Linked DNA regions of Homo sapiens: regions 2, 3 and 4 are each reported to be linked to region 1. The links are microRNA targets in miRTarBase. Many come from high-throughput screens and were not tested one by one. Region 1 holds a microRNA gene; each other region holds the end of a gene's coding sequence.

Region 1 (3,000 bases):
CGGCAGCTTGGCCAGGTTGTCCCGCCGCCCAGGCACCAAGTAGCCCCAGCCATGACGCTCTGAGTAGTGCAGAGGGAAGCCATCCCAGGTAAGTGCCATGAGTTTAGGTGTGACCCGCATCTGCAGGCTGAGGAGGCTGGGGCCCGGGGTCCATGCAGGGTCGTCTAGCCGGGGGCAGAGCTTCCGGTACCATCTACGTCCCAGCAGGAAGACAGCAGTGTCACGATGGTAAGGGCAGTTGTTGGGGGGAAGGTTCTCTCTCTCACAATGTCCCCACCCACCCTCCAAAGCCCTGGGGCTTTCTGGTGACCCCAGCCTACAGCCGCCATCCCCTCCTCTGGGATGCTTTAGCCAGGACCCCCATGGAATCCTCTAGAAGAATATTTCAAAAGCAAAGACACTAAGTCAGTCCCACTGGACTAGTCAGAAGCCAGGACACAAAAGCATACCCTGACCCAGGGCAGGGCTCCTTCCCAAGCTCCATTTCATCCAGGGTAACTGACCAGAGGAGGGAGCAGATCTGCCCTCCCCACCCCTCTAGAGAAACACCAGTCCTTCTGGGTGCTCTCTTGCAGGCTGTTCACCAGAGTTGAGCCCAGGGTGAGACTAGCAAGGCACTCAGGACACTTGCTCTCAGGGTCTTGCAGGTGCAAAGCTGGCACCCTGCTGCTCACCCTGGCTGCCCTTTTTCTCATCTCTGCCACCCTATGAGGCTCAAAGGAAGGGGCACCTTCTCAAGGAAGCCTTCTTGATTTATTTCCCGAGGCAGAGTCAGAACTCTACCTATGGACACTAGCTGCACTGGCTGGTCTACGTGCCTGGCTCCTCCTAGGAAAAAGAACTACTGGAAAGGAGGAGCTATGCTCCAGTGTGTACACCCGGTGGCTGCCACGGGCCATTGCACAGCAGGTGCTCACAACACTGTGCTGAATGAGTCCAGTGAGCCGGTCCAGAGTGAGCAAATGAGAATAGGACTGGAAGACAGTGTGACTGAATGGCAGCAGGTCAATAAGTATACATGTGCATGATGCCTCTGTGCCAGAACCCAGACCAGGGCTGTCCTGAGAATGGAGCAAGGGTAGACTCTAGATACACTGCTGGGGGTGGGCAGGGCTCACCCAGGGTGTCCAGGAAGGTGCTGGGGCCGCTTGGGCAGGAGCTCTGTGGTCCCCTTCAGCTTCTGCAAGCAGGCGCGGGCCATGACATCTTGTTGAAACTCCTCCTCCTCACTGCAGGGGCCGAGGTCTGTGAGGGTGGGGGAAGACAATCAGGAGCAGGAGAAGGAACTCTCAATAAGATCTGCTCCCACCCGCTCATCTCCAGAAGGCTGGAGCAATCCTTTCGAAGGACCCCCTCAATCACAGGACCTTCCCAGAGACAACCCCTACCCTACCCTACCTCCCACCCATGCTCCCCACCTTCCTGATCCATGGGATCACCAGGGGCCCCAGCCCCCTCGATGGGCAACTTGCTGGCTGTGGCTGGTTCCTTCTTCACCTTCTTAGCTTTCTTCTGCTTAAATTCTTGCAGGTCCCACTCCAGGTCCCAGAGCCAGGGGTCTTCTTTGTACCTACAGAGCCAGTCCACTAGGGCAGGGCTAAGGCTAAGCCGAAGGCTAGGCCGCCCACCTGCCAGTCCCCTGCCTAGATCCTGCCCACCCAAGGCCTGGCTACCTCTCTCCTGAGAGCAGCTGGCAGGCATCATTGGCCAGATCCATCAACGACTTCTTCATCTCCCGCTGGAGCTCCTCATAAGTGCCCTGTGCCTCTGCCAGGTAACGCTCCCAGTTCTGGTTGACAGGCAGGTAGGAGACACCCATCTCCAGCATGCCGGCCAGAGTCACTGGGTGGGGACACCTTGGAGGCAAACACCAGGAGCTGCCATAAATGACCACAGGAGGCAAGACTGGCCCAATCCCTGAGCTGGTTTAGCAAGCCTCAACCCAGCCACTGACATGGCACAGCTCAAAAGTCAGACGGCATTAAATCCCAGCTCTACTGTTACTCATCCCTGGGTAAGCAACCCCATCTCTCGGAGCCTCAGTTCTTTCATCTATAAAATGGGAACAATATCATCCCATCCTCAGGGGTAATGTGGGAAATATAGATGGCAAAAGTGAAAATGGCTGCCACACGTGGAGTAATGACTCTGTGCCAGGCACTGTGCTAATAATCCCATACATGAAAAACATCATGCCTGAACCTCACAACTTGGGTGGTAAAATACAGCTGACATTTAAACAACACATGTCTGGATCGTGCAAGTTCACTTACACATTTATTTTCTTCAGCCTTAGCCACCCGAGACAGCAAGCCCAACCCCCGCCCTCAGCCTACTCAACGTGAAGGATAGATATCTTTATGATGATCCACTTCCACCTAATGAATAGTAAACATATTTTCTCCTCATGATTTTCTTAATACATTTTCTTTTATCTAGCTTACTTTAAGAATACAGTATATAATACGTATAACATAAAAAATATGTATTATGTTATCAGTAAAGCTTCTAGCCAACAGCAAGCTATTAGTAGTTAAGCTCTGAGGGAGTCAAAAGTTACACCCAAATTTTCCTCCCTTCTTTTTTCTTTCCATATCTTTGGTACAAATATACCTGAATTTTCAGCATACAAGGGTCACTTCATAAGACAGACTCATTAATAAACATAACCACGCTGTATGTGAAGCCCTTGGCTAAGGATCTAGTTAGAGAAGGTGCACAGTAAACCAGGACCGTGCACATGACACACAAGCACAACTCCATGGCCCTCCCCTTCAGGGCCTCTGTCAAATCCAGAGTCCAGGGCCCAGATGGACACCACTGAACAGAAGGGCTCCATTCTTTCAGCCTAGAAAAGCTAAGGTCCCCAACCTGAGATAGAACCAGCGCCACCTGATTACAGTGGGCCCGGGTACCAGGAACACACTGACCCCCAGAGATTCCCACATGGGCTCCCCCTCACCTCTCCAAGAAGAGCGGTAGCTGCTGCTGGAAAACCTC
Region 2 (8,300 bases), not on the chromosome of region 1:
TCTTGCTAATTCTTTGGAAACTAGCCGTGACACGTGATCACATCTTAGTAAATTTCTTGACTGTCATTTTATCACCCATTGATCCCCTAAATAAGCCAGAGTTTCCTGTCCTTTCTGTCGGGGGCTCTGCCCACATGGCTAGCAGAACAAGTTCACTCTGCAACAGTTCAGCAAACATCACCGTGCACTCAGCCCCAGGGGACACAAAGACGAATGAAGGACCTGCTCCTTCCCCTAGAGCCTGGACTCTGAGGACGCCCACAATGGCTCACACTCTGCTCCTAAAAAGCCCACGGTCAACTCAAGTTCTACAACCCCACAAACCAACCTGATGCGCTCACGAAGGCACAGAATCACTGTCTGTTAGACTTGGCAAGTTTCTGCAGCTTGGGCTGCCAGGCTGAGGAACTTCTGAAATGGGGATGAGGCTGTTCTGGGGTCCTCCCTCCAGGACTCTCCTTCTCCTTCTCTGTCTGGGGCTTTGCCTGGCATCCCACCCTCTGCCAAGGGGTGGTAGGGAGTCAGCCCATCATCTGCTGAAAACTGTGGGCCGTGGAGCTGGCTGGACCCAGGAGGGGTCAGCTATGTCTCTTTCCCCTCCCCCGAGGCACAAACGAGGAATTCAAAAATGGTTTGATATTTTAACAAACGTTCCTTTATTAGGTTACTGACTATTATCAACCATCATAAAATAGAACGGGAGTTTCAAAACTGTACAAGCCACAAGGCTCTGGGCTGGTAGGAAAGAAGGGTGGGGTCGAGGGTCCCAGGGTGTCGGGGGGTGGGAGATGCAGAGAGAGCTAGAGGGTCACCCGGCATCTGTGAGGACGGCTGGGTCAAGGCCATAAGCTGGGATCTGTACAAGGGAAACATTCATCAGAATGTGACCCACCTGAAACAGGAGGGAGGAAAATCTTTAAAAGTCTTACAGGTAAGGTCCCCTGCCCCGAAAAAAAAAACCGTCAAAATAATAAGGGGGTAATGTACATTTCTCACCCAGTCTTGGCACCAATTTTGTGCTTTAAAAAATATACTCCACTGTAAGATTTACTTAAAAAAAGGTACTCTACAGCAGCTGTTTAAAACATAATTCTTACAGACAAATATATATATATGTATGTATATATATTAAACATTTTAAACAAATAAAGTCATCTATTGTACCTGTGCAGAAATGAACCAAAGTTAGACTCTAAGAGAGTTAACTTCAAGCTCAAAGAAATGGCAAAGGCGGTGGCAGGTGCTGGGGTACGCTACGTGGAGGGGTTGCCAGGGATAGGGCACCCCTCTCTTCCGGCAGCCGAGCTACCCCTCTTGAGGCTCTGAGAGGGGTTGGGATGAACTGGGGCTGTTACCCTGGGTCCAGAGCCCCGGCTGGGGTGCTGAGCAGAGACCCGCGCTGGCTTCTGTGAGGCTCGACTCTGCTCCTGGTCTTCCCCATCCCACCCTGCCCCCGGCTTCTCGGGGAATGGAGACCCACTCGCCCTCCCTTCTTAGTTCTGGGGGTCCTCTGGCACACCCAGAGCTTCTGAGGATGCACTTGGGAAATCTCAGCTAGAAAAGCAAAAGCAAAATCAAACCCACATCAAAAGACCCACAGAAGACTAAAGAAATGCAACCCTGTGCAAGGGTGCCTGAGCCCAAGAGTTAGCTGGTTACCTGGAGACACAGGGGAATTGCTGCAGCCCTTCCAGACGGGCCCCCGAAGACACCCAGATTGCACGTGAGGCTATTTCTCCCTGAGGGGCCCGCTAGGGAACTTGGAGCAGAGCCCCCTGGAAACTGCAGGGCAAGGGACCCAGAGACATACTTGTGCCTGGGCACGTGTGCACATGTGCCCAGGGAGGGCGGGCGAGGCATACATATCCCAGGGAGGGCACAGGTGGAAGGAAAGTAACAGAACAGCCAGAGAGAGGGGACTGAAACAGGGTTTCCTTTCTAGATGGAATAAATAAATGGCTTTTGTTATTGTTAAAAGAATAAATACAGGGTACGGGGCACCGGCAGCCAGGATGGGTGCTGGGTGCTTATTTGCCTGCAGACAGTTCTTGGTTTCTGCCTTGGGGTCCATGGTGAGTTTTTGACGTCCTGAGCTTTATCTGCCATGGCATGGCCCCGCTGGGCACCCTGGGCCGGGCACCAGCCCTTGTCTAAGCACCTCTTAGTACCCCTGGTATCTGCTCTCAGAGCTGTGGTACCACCTGCCACCCCCACCACCCTGGGACCCCCAGGTGGCTGCAGCCTTCTCCCAGAGGTGTGGGAAGCACCCGTCCCACCCCGAGCAGATTGGAGCTCAATGTAGGGCTTTCGTAGGAGTTTATTCTCTGTGTCTTTTTTCAAAGAGGGGTTGTATACGGACGGCATGCAGGGATGCTGCCTTCTGCTGATGTCGGGAAGGGGGAAAGAGGAGCCTGTGTTGGAATCGGTCCTTGTCCCATGGAGGCAGCCACGGAGGATGAGGGAAGACCAGGGACCTCTGTCCATGGCTACGGATGCCGGTCCAAGGTGCAGGGTGCGGCGGCCCCAGCGGCAGGCGGCTCAGTGAGTTGGCACCAGGTGGCTGTCGCGCTGGCGGTATGATGGCGAACGTCACTGGTAGAGGAGGTAGGCCTTGAGGGAAGCCGGCAGCGGCAGCGTGTGGATCTCCCCCAGGCGCTCCCTCCCCAGGGCCAGGCGCACCGAGCGACGGCACAAATCCATGAGCGGCAGCGGCTCGGCTGGGGAGACAGAGAAACTGCAGGTCAGCGCAGCTTGGGTGGGTGTTCAGCAAACAGCGCTAACCACAGCAGCAATATTATCACTGATTAGTATTCACTCAAATCAGTAAAGAAACAATGAAAAATGCAATGCTTTTTCATTTTAAATTTAGCATGTGAATAGCTGCCACCAGGAGCCCACCCTGGGCTGGGCACCTGGGCGAGCCCTCTGCTAACACTCATTTAATCCTCACAGTGGTTTCTTATGAATGACTTAATAGTCACAGAGACACCATTACCTTCATCCCCATTTTACAGATGAGGAAACTGAGGGACAGAGTCTAAATGACTTGCCAGGGGTCGCCCTGCTGGCAGGAGATGCAGCTAGGATTCGAACCCAGGCGATCCCTGCTCTTCCCCACTGGTGACTCTGCCTGTCCAGGCAAGCAGCTGCCATTGGGGCCTGTCGGTCGGAACACATGGGAGCCAGCTCTTCCTGGCACGCACCCCCAGCACTAGCTTCAGGAAGGGAATCATTTTCTGTTACCAGCTGCTCTCAGATACCATTCTCACCTCTGTTTTAAAGCTGAAGACTAGCTGGGCATGGTGGTTCACGCTGGTAATCCCAGCATTTTGGGAGGCCAAGGTGGGTGGATCATTTGAGGCCAGGAGTTCAAGACCAGCCTGGCCAACATGGTGAAACCCCGTCTCTACTAAAAATACAAAAATTAGTTGGGCGTGGTGGTGTGTGCCTGTAATCCCAGCTACTCAGGAGTCTGAGGCAGGAGAATCGCTTGAACCTGGGAGATGGAGGTTGCAGTGGGCTGAGATCACGCCACTGCACTCTAGCTGGGCGACAGAGCAAGACTCGGTCCAAAAAAAAAAAAAAAAGAACTGAGGACACACAGGCACAGAGGGGACACCCAGTGTGCCAAGGTTCAGGGCTGGGATCTGAATCCAGGCAGCCTGGGCCCAGCGTCCATGCCCTTAGCCACTAACCATGCTGCAAAGGAAGACATGGCAAACCCTGTCCTGAATCATACGTGACAGGCCTGGCTGGCCCCACGGCCTGAAGGTGTCATTTCTGTGCCACATGGAGACAGAGAAACCCCGGGTGTCTGTGCTTCTGTCTGACAGTGAGGCTGAGGGCCCAGGCCAAGCTCAGGCCCCAGGAAACTGGAAATGCCAGCCCAGTTTCAGCTGATCCCCCAGAGCTGCCTGGGCCTTCTCCCCGCAACTGCCCCAGGCACATGGGGCTCTCTCACAGCCAGGGGAACTTGGGCAGAGCTGCCTCAGGCCCCAGGGTTACAGAGCGCTTCCAGCTGCAGCCTCCCAGGCACCTCCATCCTGTGTTCCCAGAGCGCCCAGCCTTGCCTTCCTACAAAGGAGGCTGAGTTCATTCAGCTGCATCTCAGATGAGCCGTCAGCTTCAGATCTCAGGAGTCTGAAACTCATGCCTTCCAAGGCTTCTGAGCGTTGGAAGGCTGCGCGGCCCTGCTCGCCCGCTTCGCCAGAGCAGACCCCTCTTTGCTCTCTTTCCTGAAACCAGGTAGGAGTGAGCACACCTGGACCTTCGTGGGGCCGCCCACGCTGTTCTGCAGATGGAAAGCCCTGAAACTAATGGATCTGAGGCTTCATCCACGGTCTCCCCTTGACTTTGAGACTCCTTTGTGAGCAAAATAGCCCCCAAAACTAAAAGGAACCCGCAAAACTCCATCCTACCAGTAAAAAGTGGATTAAAGTTCTTTAATATTCACCAATGTGTCTCAAATATACGAAAATCAATTACTGAAGACCAAACACTACGGGTGGGGCATGGCAGAATGGAGAGAGGCTGCTTATGGGTATAGGGTTTCTTTTTGGGGTGATGAAAATGTTCTAAAATTGTTTCCTACATCTCACCACGCAAGAGGCCACTGAATTGGATACTTTAATGGGTGAATTGTAAGGTATGTGAATTATAGCTCAGTAAAGCTGTTACAAAATAGAAGAATGGACCTTAGGCTTGATAATGCATTTACTAAACCCCAAGCTTTAAAAGAAGAGGGACCAGGTCAGGCACAGTGGCTCATACCTGTAATCCCAGCACTTTGGGAGGCCAAGGACAGAAGACTGCTTGAGCCCAGGAGTTTGAGACCAGCCTGAGCAACATAGGGAGACCTCATCGCTACAAAAAATAAAAATCAGCCAGGACTTGGGAGACTGAGGCGAGAGGATCGGTTGGGCCCAGGAGGTCAAGGCTGCAGTAAGCTGTGATTGTGCCACTGTATTCCAGCCTGCGTAACAGAGACCTTGTCTCAAAAATGAAAACAGGCCAGGTGTGGTGGCTCACGCCTGTAATCCCAGCACTTCGGGAGGCCGAGGCCGGCGCATTACCTGAGGGCAGGAGTTCAAGACCAGCCTGGCCAACATGGTGAACCCTCATCTCTACTAAAATTAGTATACAAAAATGAGCCAGGCATGGTGGCATGGGCCTGTAGTCCCGGCTACTCGGGAGGCTAAGGCAGGAGAATCACTTGAACCTGGGAGGTGGAGGTTGCAGTGACCCGAGATCACACCATCGCACTCCAGCCTGGGGTGACGGAGCAAGACTCTGTCTCAGAAAAACCAACAACAACAACGACAACAACAACAACAAAACAACAACAAAAAAACCCCAAAACTGAAAAAATAAATAAACAAAAGAAGAGGGACCACTGCTCTTCATCCCCCATGGACGGTCACAGCCACAGCTCCTGACAAGGAACTGAAATGTTCTGTATTTTTAATGGAGAATTTTGAAAGGGGGCCTTTCGTGGCCAGCTTAGGATGATTAAGAGGAGCTCTGATTGGAGACGAATGGAGGAATGAAATAACCTTGGGTTCTTTAAGGTCAAGGATCCCACAGACCCCTCGTGATGGGGTGGGACTGGGTTCCACCCACCCGGCTCCTCACAGGGTTGGGTTTCCCTCGGGTAAAACACCCAGCCTGGTGACTCCAGACCCTGCCCCGCAGCCTGACCTGGAGCACATCCCTCCGTCTGCCCGGACTTGTTTCCCCATCTGTAAGACACGGAATCCAGACCAGATTCTCCCCAAAGTCCCATGCAGCCAAGATCCTGAAGGCCAGAAGTGCTTATCGCAGCCTGTGGTCTGGCCTGGCTGTCGGGAGTAGGTCTTCTGCACAGAGGAGTGGGGAATTTGCAGGTGTGTTCTCTTCTCTGCTTGGGAGCGCGCCTGCATCTGGCCTGCATCAGGGCCAAGGGGTCTGGGCTGCCCTGAGCTCCCTCCCGGGAGAATGTGGCTCAGCCCCCGCCGGAAAGTGGAGGGGCTCTCCCTCGTGGCTGGAAAGCACCTGAGAAAGCTCCAAGAGCCACTGAATGTGGCCCAAGAGCCCTGCCAGGCTGCAGCAGTGAGGGCTGAGAGGGAGTTCAGTCACTACCCTCTTGGTGTAACGGGTTTCCAATCAACCCATGAAGAAATGTTTCTAGGCTGGACGCGGTGGCTTATGCCTGTAATCCCAGCACTTTGGGAGGCCGAGGTGGGTGATCACCTGAGGTCAGGAGTTTGAGACCAGCCTGGCCAGTGTGGCAAAACCTCATCTCTATTAAAAATACAAAAATTAGCTGGGTGTGGTCGTGCATGCCTGTAGTCCCAGCTACTTGGGAGTTTGAGGCAGGAGGATTGCTTGAACCTGGGAGGCAGAGGTTTGCAGTGAGCTGAGATTGCGCCACTGCACTACAGCCTGGGTGACAGAATGAGACTCCATCTCCAAAAAAAAAAAAATTTTCTAAAACTGCAGAGGCCCACATGAGCCCCCAGCTCCATCCAGTGCCTTATTTTGAGTGGCTGACACCGCAGCCCCAGCCCCAGCCATGGCCTGTGGGGCACCAGTCGTGTGCCTGATGGGGACTGTGACCCCAACCTACAGATAGGGAAATGGGCTTGGGGAGGTGAGAGTTACAGGTCCAAGGTCTGAGAGCCATGGACTCCAAAGGGATGAGGCCCTCCAGCTGCCACAATCCATCCCCTGTGAACGCAGCTGTGTGGGGTAGAGGACTTGCCACAGCCTGGCCATCTCTGGATCTCACTGAATAAACCAGTTAGGGATGGGTCATGGGATCCACCAAGACGGGCTAGAGAAGTGGCAGTGAATGGCTGCAGTGATGTGTTATGAGCTGAAAATAGGACCAGAGTCACCCAGGCATCCTGTGAATGGGTCTCTTCTCTGGGTCCTCAAGTACATAAACAGGTCACGCCTCCTTGATCTTGCAGGAGGAAACTGATGGCGCATAGGGCCCGGTCTAACTGCTTTCCAAAGGCTGGGCAGAGACCAAGAATGCATGGCCACAGAAACAGACGTGGGCTTCGTGCCGTGAAAAAATGCCCAGCCCCCATTTCAGCTGGTCACTACCAGTACCAGGGAGTTCTCCCCAACCTCCACACTCTTGACTGGGGGCTGCCAGCTTTGCACCCAGCTCCAGCCACAAACCCAGGTGCCTGCTGAAATCTACCGAGGGGGTGGGCACCTGCACTGTGGCCTGGGGCCTCTGGCTGCTATGCCCATCCCCAGGAAGCTTAGGCGCTCATTCATTTAAATAATTTCTGTGAATGAGAGTGCAATGCTGAATGAGCAGCAAAGAAATCAGGAAGTCAATCAGGCGCTATTTCTGGGAGCAGAAGCCTGAGGAACTGGAAGAGACAGTGCACCAGCTTCCACATTTCTGTGAGAAACGGCTACCTGGTGGCCCACGTGAACATGCACAGCCCCAGAGCCCCAACCCACAACTGTCTCACTGTTCCCCGAGAGATTTCAACCCAACTCAAGCCTCAAGAGTGTGGTGCTGTGCCCAGTTCACGGGCTGAGTGAACGAGCTGCAGAACGGTGAGGTCAAGGAAAAATGTTCCGCATCAGAGAATGCCCCGGCTTCCGCAATGTCCTCGCTGACAGCTGTCATGGCTCCTGTGGCTGGCCCTGCAAGCAGCTTGTGGGGACCACGCTCCAGGACATGGATTCTAGAATGTCACGGGTCGGGTGGCCATCATAGGATGTGTGTGTGTTTTCCTCTACACTACGCAGTTCTTACGAAAGAGCACAGCCAAACACAACGTGGAGCCTTTGTCCTTGTCAACTGGGGAAGGACGCCTGAGATCCACCTAGGTGATCAGACACCCTTGGTCCCCTATCCCCCCCAAACTCTGAGAGCCTGCGGTCCTCATATGACCAGAACTTCTGGAGGGTGTGGGGAATAGGGTCTGGGACAACCCCTCCCCGACATGGAAGGAAGGAAGGAAGGGAGGGAGGGAGGGTGGGTGGCCCTGGTGGCGGTGTATCAGTCTCCCGATGAGTAGCTCCCGGCAGAGTCCAGCTGGAGTGGAGTGCAGGAAGGAGGCACCCGGGAGGAGGCTCTGATCTTGAGGAGACGAGCTGACCTTCCCTGAACCTTCAACCACGACAAACCACACCAAACCCATCTGGGAGCCGTTAAAGAAAATTCGAAAATGCTGAACTGCATGGAAGATGCCTCCTCAGTGGGAGATGTCTTTAAAGCAGTGGGGGTAGAGCCAGAGGACCCACAAGGTCAGGGGCTCCCCCTGGACAGCCTGCCAGCCTGCTGCTTGCAA
Region 3 (8,303 bases), not on the chromosome of region 1:
TTTTGTAGAGACAGGGTTTTGCCATTTTGCCCAGGCTGGTTTCAAACTCCTGAGCTCAAGCAGCTGCCTGCCTCAGTCTCCCAAAGTGCTGGGATTATAGGCATGAACCACTGGGCTTGACCTAAATTAGATAATTTCTGTTCTGTCTTCAAGGTTATAAATTTTTTTCTTTTGCCATCTCACCTCTGCTATTGAACTGGGCTAGTAAATTTTGCTTATTGTACACTTCAGCTTTAGAATTTCCTTTTTTTTCTTTTTCCTTTTTTTTTTTTTTTTTTTTTTTTTTTTGAGACAGTCTCACTCTGTCGTCAGGCTGGAGTGCAGTGGCACGATCTGGGCTCACTGCAGCCACCGACTCCCGGGTTCAAGTGATTCTTCTGCCTCAGCCTCCTGAGTAGCTGGGACTACAGGTGTGTGCCACCATGCCCAGCTAATTTTTGTATTTTTAGTAGAGATGAGGTTTCACCATGTTGGCCAGGATGGTCTCGATCTCTTGACCTCGTGATCCGCCCGCCTCGGCCTCCCAAAGTGAAAGTACTGGGATTACAGGCGTGAGCCACCACACTGGGCCTGGTTCTTTTTTAGAGTAAATTTCCTTTTCGAGATTCCTTATTTATTTACTTATACTATATTTGTAAAAAAATCTTTGGACATATTCATAACAGCTGCTTTGAAGTCTTTACCAAATCCAACACTTAGGACCACTTGGATTCAGCTTCTGTTGATTGCTTTTTTCCCCTAAATATGAATCACGCTTTCCTGTTTCTTTTCATATCTAGTAATTTTTTTAACTGAAACCTAGATGTGTAGATAATATGTAGTAGTAACTCCTGAATGTTTTGTTTCTAGAAACTGCTTTATTCTCTGAAAAGTATAGGTTTTCTTGTTTTAGTAGGCAGTTAACTTGCCTATACTCAAACTATAAACTCTGTCTCATGTGATGTGTGGCAGCTAATGTCTGCTCAGTTTTTTCAGCTTTGCTGCTTTTTTAGTCCTGGAGGTTTACCCTGTGCCTTTGTAATATAGTGGTCACTCAGGGATTTGGGAAGTTAATTCTCAGATTTTGGGGTTCATCCTTTCTGTGGTTCTGTTGCTTCTGGAGTTCCTCCTCTAAGTTTCCAGTTGCTCTGCCATCTCCCCACGTTTTACCCCAGCACCTAAAGATGGTAAGACTTCGCTTTCTCCACCCTGGGCTTTGTGCGTGCTGTGTGCTCAAAGGTGAAGCAGATTTGCAGATTTCACCAGGAGTAATCGTTACTTAGTTTCAACTTCTGTAAAATAGGGATAGTTCCTAGGATTAGTGTGAGGATTAAATGGGATAATACAAATACGACACAACACAAATACCCAACAAAATTAGCTTTTCATTTCTACTTTGTTAATATTTTGTTGGTAGGAGTGGTGGTGATGATGATTTGGAGGTTCTTAGATCCATAAAATGAGGTGTGGGTTAATCTGTGAGGTGGGCAAAGGGAGGAAAAAAGCAGATGTTGGCAGTTACTGTTAACAGGAAATACAGTGAAGGAAAGTAAATGACAATAGTAGGGGTTATAATCAGGTAGAATTAAATTTTGATTGCAAACATTAGGACTTTCTGTTTCCAATTTTGTAGATGCAACATCTTTTTATAAAGGCAAACTAAAAAGATGAAACATCCTTTTTTTTTTTTTGCTTACTTTTCCAAATGGGAAAAAACTGGATATATTCTGCTTCCAGTTTCGTTTAATAATCAGTGCTGCTGTTTTTTATAACAAACAGGTGTTTCAGAGTTGTGAACCACAAATTGTTTAATAAGCCTATTCTATATTCTACATTAGAATTTGTAGCCAGATTGGATTATTCATGATTCCACATTACATGTGGAACTGCTTTGTAAACTTTAAAAGCTGTGTGTCTTACTAAGGTGATTTTTAAAATTGTGGTGAAACATACATATTTATTATTTTAACCATTTGTAAGTATACAATTCAGTGGCATTAAATACATTCACACACCTCTCTCTATACCCAAAACTTTTTCCTCACCCCAACATAATCTCTATTATGTTCATTCCCTATTTCCTTCACTCCCCACCCCTGGTAAACTCTGCTCTACAACTATATATATTTGAGTATTCTAGATACTTTATATAGGTGGAATCATACCATTTAGCCTTTTGTGTCTGGCTCATTTCACTTAGCATAATATTTTCAGGGTCTATCTATGTTGTAGCATATATCAAAATTTCATTTCTGTTTATGGCTGAATAATATTCCATTGTACGGCCGGGCGCGATGGCTCATGCCTGTAATCCCAGCACTTTGGGAGGCTGAGGCAGGTGGATCACGAGGTCAGGAGATGGAGACCATCCTGGCTAACACGGTGAAACCCGTCTCTACTAAAAATACAAAAAATTAGCCGGGCGTGGTGGCGGGCACCTGTAGTCCCAGCTACTGGGGAGGCTGAGGCAGGAGAATGGCATGAACCCGGGAGGCGGAGCTTGCAGTGAGCTGAGATTGCACCACTGCACTCCAGCCTGGGCGACAGAGCAAGACTCCGTCTCAAAAAAAAAAAAAAAAAAAGTTCCGTTGTATGTATAGTATAGTAATTTGAGAAGCTGATTTAGATTGCTCTTTTTGGTAAAATATGCCAAGTTATAGATTTTAGTGTTAACCTTAAGAAAAACCTTTAAACAAAGAGTAAATAAAATCAATCTAGGTAGTGTTCAGGTGGAACATTTAAATTGTAAGTAATTAAGTGTAGATTCCATGTGAGTCTTAAAAACAAAACTATCAAAGTAAGCATTTGTGATGTGTTACCTAGGCTGGAGTGCAGTGGGCAGTGGTGCGATACCAGCTTTGCGCCACCACACCCAGCTAATTTTTGTATTTTTAATAGAGATGGGTTTTCACCATGTTGCCCAGGCTGGTCTTGAACTCCTGGGCTCAAGCAATCCGCCCGCCTCAGCCTCCCAAAGTGCTGGGATTATAGGCATGAGCCACTATGCCCGGCCAGATGTATGTCCTTTTTTTATAGATGTTTCTTCCTGACTAGAAAGCTTCCCTTCTGATTTTTCTAGATAGCTTTCAGGATAATATTCTTAATATTTTCAACTTCTTGATTTGTGTCTTGTTTCTTCTAGCTACACCCTTGGCAGATTTTCTTCTAACCTTTTGATATCTGTTTGCAGATAGGAGAAAGAATTCGAGTCATCTTGGACATGGAAGATAAGACTTTAGCTTTTGAACGTGGATATGAGTTCCTGGGGGTTGCTTTTAGAGGACTTCCAAAGGTCTGCTTATACCCAGCAGTTTCTGCTGTATATGGCAACACAGAAGTGACTTTGGTTTACCTTGGAAAACCTTTGGACGGATGACAGTGGCTTTCTTGTGATGACAGACAGAATGGAGGAGAGATCTGCTTATGGGAAGTAGAACCATGAAGTGACTGTCACACATGCATGTCCAAGAAACATCCTGAAAACACATGAAGTCGTAAACTGGAGAAGCAGCTCTACAGCAGAGATTATCTTCGTGTTTCCTCTTTCTACTGGGCCAGAAAAATCCTCAGGGTTGCAGTTGGTTGAGTGGGCAGTTGACATATGCATGTTGCACCCGATGTTGTCTCTAAGTTAGCAATGTGTTATTTCCAGCTTTAAAGGTGAGATTGTAGAGATGCTGTCAAAGGGATAAGGAAATAGCAAGATTTTTAAGTAGTGTGTTTGTGAAGACTGATCCCATTTTACAACTGCCTGTTCTTTCTCCAGTCCTTTTTTTTCCAGCCAGCTTGACTATTAGAAAAGTATGAAACTGGTTGGGTTTTATTTAATATTTTTAATATATTGAGAAGCATGGTCTGCCTGGACTGCACTTCTCTAAAAGTGAGATATAAAATTGTGCAGCTATTTTAAAAGTTGTATATAATATGTGTGTAAAAAAAAAAAACTGTAAAAAAGAAAGGACAAACAGGTTGTTTTGTTCTAGTTCTAATTTCTTAAAAACCACTACATGGTTACAAAATTGGAATAACATTTGGGGACAACTGGGTTAACTACAAAGAAGAGGATTTTAAGAGGAGATGTGTTGTATTGACTCATTTTGTATTATTTTTGGCTTACAGTTCCCATAGCTGTTAGAGTCTGGTTTGTTTTTGTTTTTACTCTCAAAATCATAGTAAAGATCTCTCAGTCTCCTGGCTAAAGATTGAAGGAAGGCAAATCTATTTCTAATTATACATATATCAGTAAGGATGATCTCAACATAATAGTAATGTGTATCTTTTGGTATCCAGTTTTATTTTTGGCCTTCTAAGAAAGTGTCTCATAACACAGAACATTGCCATTTGCTCTTGTAGGCCTCAAATATGAAAGCTATTAGTCATAGAGCCTAGGAAAAAAAGAATTGATTAATGGTCCTTTTATTTTGTAACCTTATAAATGCTGTAGATATTATCAAAAAAATTTTAATTTCATATTGTTTACATCATGCAACTAATCTAAGCCTCAAACTCGTTATTGGGGCTATAAAGAAAACGTTTACTTACCCAGCTGAAACAGGTTAAGAATATTCTTAATCTCATTATAGATAATTGCCCCCATGGGACTTGAAATACAACACCTTGTGCTGAAAACTTCAGGTTGGCAATATTTGAAGGTTTCGTTGTAGAAGAGTTTAACATTAACTCCTATTTTGACTTACAAATCTTGTTTCTCATCACTAAAATGCTTTTGAATTAATAATCCAACCCACATGAGCTGAGAGTTTTTCTTTTGTTAGAAAAGAAACAGACATCTTTCTGTATGAAAGTATAAATTGTATGGTTTTAGATACATAAGAATTGACAAAAGCGAGCGAAATCTTTGTACTTCTGAGTTCTTGCTGTATGTATGTTTTGTTTTAAATCTGATTAGGGACACCCAGCAGCTGGCCGGGATTCTTGGATTGCTCCTTGGGAGTTAAGATTGTCAATACTCCTGTGAAGCAAGGGATTTCAGCCATAGAACAAAGATTTATTGTTGCCACCTGAAAAGTTTACAAGTATTTATTGTGTATTTGATACATTGCTTGAAAAGATGAAATCTGTTAAAGATTCTTTTCGATGTCCAGGTTAAGAAGAAACCTCCTTGTATTGAGTGAAATTATATGTTAAATGTATTAGAGAATGTAGGTGGTATAGAAATTGATTTTTCTTGGTGTAGAACAACTCAGTTCGGCAAAGTTTAAAATTTGATTAAACAAGAGAAGTGGTTCAGGTTGAAGATGGACTTGTTAGGAAGTGATCAAGTCCTTTAAGTACTTGTTTCTTTTTCAGGTTGTGATGTGGCCATTCCGAATTTTGTTGAGAGTTTGGTTTATAATTGTCTCTTTTGTCTTGTTAGTAAACATTCATTTGCAACAGTTTTGAAGGTGCTGAGTGGAAAACCGAAACACATGGTTATTGCGTATTGGACCTAGAATGAAATAATTGCCTCAATATTTAACAACAAGCCATTCTTATCTCAAAGATTTAAATTCCCGAATGTCCCATTCGCAAATCATATGCAATTGAAGTGAGCAGCATGAGCATCTGGGTCATGAGGGCCTTCATTTACGTAAATTTGTCACTAAAACCCAGTAGTAGCTCTACAAAATCTTAAACTGCTGCAGTGCTCAAGGAGATGGAATATCTTTGTCATTGGTGCTGAGGAGAGCATTTCGGTAGAAGACAGTTGCGCCTGAAGATTGAGTGTAAATCATTCAAACCAGTGGTTCTCAGTGTTGGCTGTATACACTTTGTAGTCACTTTGGAATGTTGGAAGACACATCGATGCTTGGGTTCCGTATGCCAAGATTCTGATGTTGGTCTGGAATATGAGCTGGTCATAAGGATTTTTAAAAACTTTCTGGTCATTTCAATATGCTGCCAAGGTTGAGAACCACTGTTGTAAAATTCACCTTGAGTTTTCTCATCTGCAAAATAGAAAAAAAAAAATCCTTGCTCCCTCCCTTCACTACCTCACAAGGATATTGAGGGTAAAGGAGAAAATAATGGGAAAGTGCTTGTGCCGTGGATGAAAAGTGCTATTAAAAGTCAAAGGAGTGTTCTGTTTCAATTCATAGTATGATCAGGGAAAGTGTAACTGAGTATACTTTGTTGACTTGGGAAACCTGGAGCACTTTCTTTGGTTGGTTAACGAAGCATGCAGATGTGGAAGCAGACGTTACTATTATCCCTACTATGGTCTTCTGTCATACTGAGACAGGCTGTTTTAATTACCTGGTTTTACATAGGAAAGAAGAAATATTAAGGCTTAAAGTTTGTAATGATCAATGGCTCATAATTCATTAAATCTTTTCATACAAGGAATTTGTGGTTAATGTCATTTCATAGTTGCCATTATTTTCTCATTATTTGACTTAAATGTTAAGCCATTTATTTCATCTCCCTCATTCACATAAAGTGTAGATATGGATTCAATAAGACACCAAAAGAAAGTAAGATTTACCCAGTTAATATTTAAAATCATTGTTCAGTGATTAGGCATTTTCTGCCTTTTAGAATTATTTGACTGGAGAAAGAGTTTCAAAAATAGCAGAGCCCTAAACCATAAAGAAACTACTACTGTATAATGAACTTTTGTTTGTTTTTGGAGACAGGGTTTCACTCTACTGCCTAGGCAGGTCTTGAACTCCTGGGCTCAAGCAGTCTTCCTGCCTCAGCCTCCCAAGTAGCTGGGATTACAGGTGTATGCCACTATACCCAGCTTTAACTTTTAAATCCCCAAACTATGTAGATTGTCATATTAATATTAATTTTTTTTTGTTATTTTGAAGAAGTGAGTAATTTGAAGAGATAGAAACTTAGGGAGTGGTGTGTGTGTTTCTTTTTTGGAGACAGAGTCACGCAGGCTGGAGTGCACGATCTTGACTCACTGCAACCTTTGCCACCCAGGTTCAAGCAATTCTCGTGCCTCAGCCTCCCGAGTAGCATGTGCCACCACACCTGGCTAATTTTTTTCTTTTTTCTTTTAGACGGAGTCTTGCTCTGTTGCCCAGGCTGGAGTGCGGTGGTGTGATCTCAGTTCACTGCAACCTTTGCCTCCCGGGTTCAAGTGATTCTCCTGCCTCAGTCTCCCGAGTAGCTGGGATTACAGGCACCTGCCACCATGCCTGGCTAATTTTTGTATTTTTAATAGAGACGGGGTTTCACCATGTTGGCCAGGCTGGTCTCGAACTCCTGACCTTGTGATCCACCCACCTCAGCCTCCCAAAGTGCTGGGATTACAGGCATGAGCCACTGTTCCCGGGCCTAATCTTTGTATTTTTAGTAGAGGGGGTTTATGCCATGTTGGCCAGGCTGGTCTTGAACTCCTGGCCAACACCACCCACCTCGCCTCCCAAAGTGCTGGGGTTACAGGCGCGAGCCACCGTGCCAGGCCAGAAATTTAAGGAGTTTTAAAGGTTAGCATTGAAAAGATTACTTTCCAGAAATTGAGACCACCACAGTTCCACAATTGGGACTGTGGTAGATAATCAGGACCACTTGGAAGCCTTTATTAGGAACAGCCCACACCCAGCCCAAATGCTGTCCTCAAAAACATTCCTCAGTTTCTCTAGCTGAATGTAATCTCTCCTTGAAATTTCCCTAGTTTTATATATCTATAGTTGACTCATGCTGTATTTATTTATACCTTGTTTAAAATTATTTATTGATTATTTATTGGTGTCATATCGCCCCTAAACTGGGACAGGATCTCTAACGGACTCATCTTTGTGCCACAACATGTAAGCCCAATAGGCAGGTGCTCACATATTTGCTGAAGGAACAGAGAAAGAACTGCGGAGAAAGACAAAAGCTCCTCTGAAGTTTTAGACTATAGAAGCAAAAATTATAGTAGCAAAAGATGAATGAGAAATTCTGTTCTAGTCCCAGTGAAGCAGGAAGGAAAGGGTTGCAAACTTGAGGCTGGTAAGGAAGAAATAATTACTGTGAATGCATTTAGCCACTCCCCTCTACTCAAAAATACTGGTAAACTCTGATTTTTATATTTGTTTAGAATTTAAATTAGAATTCTGTATCTTTATTTTTTGGAATTCTGTTGTTTTGCCTTAGTTTCTTAATAAAAAGTTAAACATTAACCACCTGTGATTGCTTACATTTAAAGACATTTTTTACACATTGGTTAGAAAGAAAAATTGGGGTGCCTTAATAGCCAGAGGTGGTGATGGAATTTACCTATAAATTCCATGGCTTTAATAATAGAATCCACATTCCCCATGTTTAGAATGGAAAGTGGACAGAGAACAGTAATTCACTAGGGTCTTATTTCCCAATTGCCTCTACCG
Region 4 (3,000 bases), not on the chromosome of region 1:
CCAAAGAGCTGTCAGAAATCTTTGATCCCACACGAGGTAGGCTGCTGCATTCCTCCCTGAGGCTAGGGGTAAGGGACACAGCTCATTGGGTCCTATGGCTGTTTTCTTGCCCTTTTGAGGACCTTGTTGTGGCGCTTATGGTAACTGGGGCAAAGGGTGAAGTTCCTGATGGGCAGGTGGGGTTCCCTTTCCTGGGCTTTGGTGGGTGGAGAGGTGGGAGCTGGAATGTTAGTAACTGAGCTCCCTCCATTCCCAGAGTGCATGAGCTCGGAGCTGCTGGAGGAGTTGATGTCCTCAGAAGGTGGGTGGCCCTGGAAGGTGGGAGTGGGTGTGGGCAGGGGTTGGGCTGCTGCTAGGGGAGCCCTGGCCCAGGGCCTGAGACTAGTGCTCTCTGCAGTGTTTGCCCCTCTGCTTCGTCTTTCTCCACCCCCGGGAGACCACGATTATATCTACAACCTGGACGAGAGTGAAGGTGTCTGTGACCTCTTTGATGTGCCTGTTCTCAACCTCTGACTGACAGGGACATGCCCTGTGTGGCTGGGACCCAGACTGTCTGACCTGGGGGTTGCCTGGGGACCTCTCCCACCCGACCCCTACAGAGCTTGAGAGCCACAGACGCCTGGCTTCTCCGGCCTCCCCTCACCGCACAGTTCTGGCCACAGCTCCCGCTCCTGTGCTGGCACTTCTGTGCTCGCAGAGCAGGGGAACAGGACTCAGCCCCCATCACCGTGGAGCCAAAGTGTTTGCTTCTCCCTTTCTGCGGCCTTCGCCAGCCCAGGCTCGGCTGCCACCCAGTGGCACAGAACCGAGGAGCTGCCATTACCCCCCATAGGGGGCAGTGTCTTGTTCCTGCCAGCCTCAGTGTCTTGCTTCTGCCAGCTCCTTCCCCTAGGAGGGAAGGGTGGGGTGGAACTGGGCACATGCCAGCACCACTTCTAGCTTCCTTCGCTATCCCCCACCCCCTGACCCTCCAGCTCCTCCTGGCCCTCTCACGTGCCCACTTCTGCTGGGCCTTTAGCCCTAGAACCTGCAGGTGGTGGGGGCGGCTACCAAGAAGGAACAGAGGTCTCTGGGGAGGAGTCTGGGTGGTCCAGCCCTGATGATTGGCCCCACCTCCTGCTGCCCCATAACCCTCTCTTCATTTCGGCTTTTTCATTTACCCTCATTTAGAGCCATTTGCAGAGATTTAGAAAGATTTACAGTAACGAATGGATTCCTATATAAAGATTATTTTTATACTTTTTGCAGCAAAAGGAAATTGTAATATTTGTACAGTGTTCAAGTGAATAAAAACCATGCCTAAGGCTAGCTCTGATGTGGTTCTTTGGGGACCCTCCTTGGGACTGTGCTGGACTGGCAGTGTGATTGGGTGGGTCACCTTGCTGGAACTAGGGGTGGGGCGGCCTCCGGCAGCCTGCCCTCCCCGCCCCCACCTGCCGCACCTTGGTGTGGGGCGGGGCCGCCTCGGCGGGGCGGGGCAGGCGGAGCCGTCCTACCTTCCTACCCCCAGACTCCAACCCGGAACTAACCTCGGCTCCCTTGGGAAGGCCGCGTTGCATGGCCAGGAGCAGCAGTCTGGGCCGCGAGTGCGGGACACCGAGGTCAGGTCTCGGAAAGGGAGGACCTCCTCGTCCCCAGGGGCCCCAGGCCAGGTGCACCCTTGGCCGCAGGTGCACGGTCTCCGGAAAGTGCAGGCGCCCACGTCCCAGCTGGACCATGGCGCCTCCGCGGAACGTGGTGAAGATTGCCATCAAGATGCGTGACGCCATCCCGCAGCTCATCCAGCTGGACCAGGTCACCCGGCTGGTCCCGCCTCCATCTGCCCCACTGCCCCACCTCCCGGTAGCCCCCTGGCCCTCGGGGCAGCCCGCCCCACCCCTCCCCCCAGGCTCCTCCCCATCCCTCCCTGCCCAGGCCGCGAGAATGACCACTCCACTTGCAGGCGAAGCCCCTGGCCGCTGTGCTGAAGGAGGTGTGCGACGCGTGAGTGCTGCCGGGCCAGGGCCTGCGGAGGGCGGGAGGGCAGGAGGGGCGGCGCCCCCTGCCGGCCTCGCTGAGCCTCGTGCCCCTCAGGTGGAGCCTGACGCACTCTGAGCGTTACGCCCTGCAGTTTGCGGATGGGCACCGGAGATACATCACCGAGAATGTGAGTCCCCTCTCCCCAGCCCCAAGCTCGGCCTTCCGACCCCTCTAACCCACCTGGCCCCGATAACTCTGGCTCTTCATCCCACTACCGGAGCGCGATCTGTTATTCACCCCCAGCCGCCCTCACCGACACCCCAGTTGATCAGTCCTCGGAGCCCTCCCTGACCTCGCTGCCTTTTCTGCTGTCTTCTCCAGAACCGCGCGGAGATCAAGAATGGCAGCATCCTGTGCCTCAGCACGGCCCCAGTAATGCCCCTCCCGTCCCGCCTTCCCCATCCCTGCCCCTTTGCTCCAGGTCCAGAGGCCCCCCGCCCCGGAGGCCCCCGCCCCAGCCCTGCCTTGCGCCACCTAGTTGACGCCCGGGGCCGCACACTTCCAGGTCCCACCCTTACCATGCCCAGCCTCTTCACCTCTGCTCCTGCTCCGTTCCTGCCAGGACCTTGAGGCTGAGCAGCTCTTGGGTGGGCTGCAGAGTAACAGTCCTGAAGGGCGCCGGGAAGCCCTGAGGCGCCTTGTTCCGCTGGCCTCGGACATGATCTTTGCCAGGGAGGTCATCAGCCGTAATGGGCTCCAGATACTAGGCACCATCATTGAAGATGGGGACGAGTGAGCACAGGGATGTGTGGGCTGGGGGAGATGGTGGGTCTTTCTGGTCCTGGGGTGGTCCTGCTCAGCCCCAGATGTCCCCCCTCCAGCCTAGGAGAGGTGCTGGCCCTCAGCCTGAGGGCCTTCTCAGAGCTCATGGAGCACGGCGTGGTGTCCTGGGAGACTCTGAGCATCCCCTTTGTGAGGAAGGTGGGTGGGCTTTCCTAGGGCAGCGGGTGGGGGCAGTGGAGCAGTGGGGCAGTGGTAGAC

The links. Region 1 holds the annotated microRNA hsa-miR-6766-5p (CGGGUGGGAGCAGAUCUUAUUGAG, at 1,289-1,312, opposite strand). A microRNA usually pairs through its seed, bases 2 to 8, with sites in the 3' UTR of a target mRNA and lowers its output. Matches are read on the target gene's strand: a 7mer-m8 pairs with bases 2 to 8, a 7mer-A1 pairs with bases 2 to 7 and ends in A, and an 8mer does both.
Region 2: miRTarBase lists SPSB1 as a target of hsa-miR-6766-5p. Seed matches in the 3' UTR shown: 7mer-m8 at 780-786 and 7mer-m8 at 750-756.
Region 3: the mRNA of FBXO45 is a reported target of hsa-miR-6766-5p. Seed matches in the 3' UTR shown: 7mer-A1 at 6,902-6,908, 7mer-A1 at 7,208-7,214 and 7mer-A1 at 7,339-7,345.
Region 4: miRTarBase lists E2F4 as a target of hsa-miR-6766-5p. Seed matches in the 3' UTR shown: 7mer-m8 at 582-588, 7mer-A1 at 788-794 and 7mer-m8 at 955-961.

The regions. Positions count from the first base shown.
Region 1 is chr15:89,325,494-89,328,493 of GRCh38, forward strand. MIR6766 (microRNA 6766) reads right to left here and starts at 1,317; the gene lies at 1,246-1,317. POLG (DNA polymerase gamma, catalytic subunit) reads right to left here. Exons shown (of 23, transcript NM_002693.3): 6 at 2,963-3,000; 7 at 1,674-1,856; 8 at 1,419-1,570; 9 at 1,119-1,245; 10 at 1-193.
Region 2 is chr1:9,361,865-9,370,164 of GRCh38, reverse strand. It overlaps SPSB1 (splA/ryanodine receptor domain and SOCS box containing 1), which reads right to left. Exons shown (of 3, transcript NM_025106.4): 3 at 633-2,717. The coding sequence ends at 2,590. Among named protein-coding and RNA genes, the nearest start is that of LINC02606, 63 kb to the left of the region's middle.
Region 3 is chr3:196,580,964-196,589,266 of GRCh38, forward strand. FBXO45 (F-box protein 45) reads left to right here. Exons shown (of 3, transcript NM_001105573.2): 3 at 3,170-8,096. The coding sequence ends at 3,355. Among named protein-coding and RNA genes, the nearest start is that of FBXO45, 16 kb to the left of the region's middle.
Region 4 is chr16:67,197,611-67,200,610 of GRCh38, forward strand. E2F4 (E2F transcription factor 4) reads left to right here. Exons shown (of 10, transcript NM_001950.4): 8 at 1-36; 9 at 257-301; 10 at 398-1,308. The coding sequence ends at 513. ELMO3 (engulfment and cell motility 3) reads left to right here and starts at 1,521. Exons shown (of 20, transcript NM_024712.5): 1 at 1,521-1,794; 2 at 1,943-1,983; 3 at 2,074-2,146; 4 at 2,341-2,391; 5 at 2,582-2,751; 6 at 2,841-2,940. The coding sequence starts at 1,717. RefSeq lists a silencer at 857-916.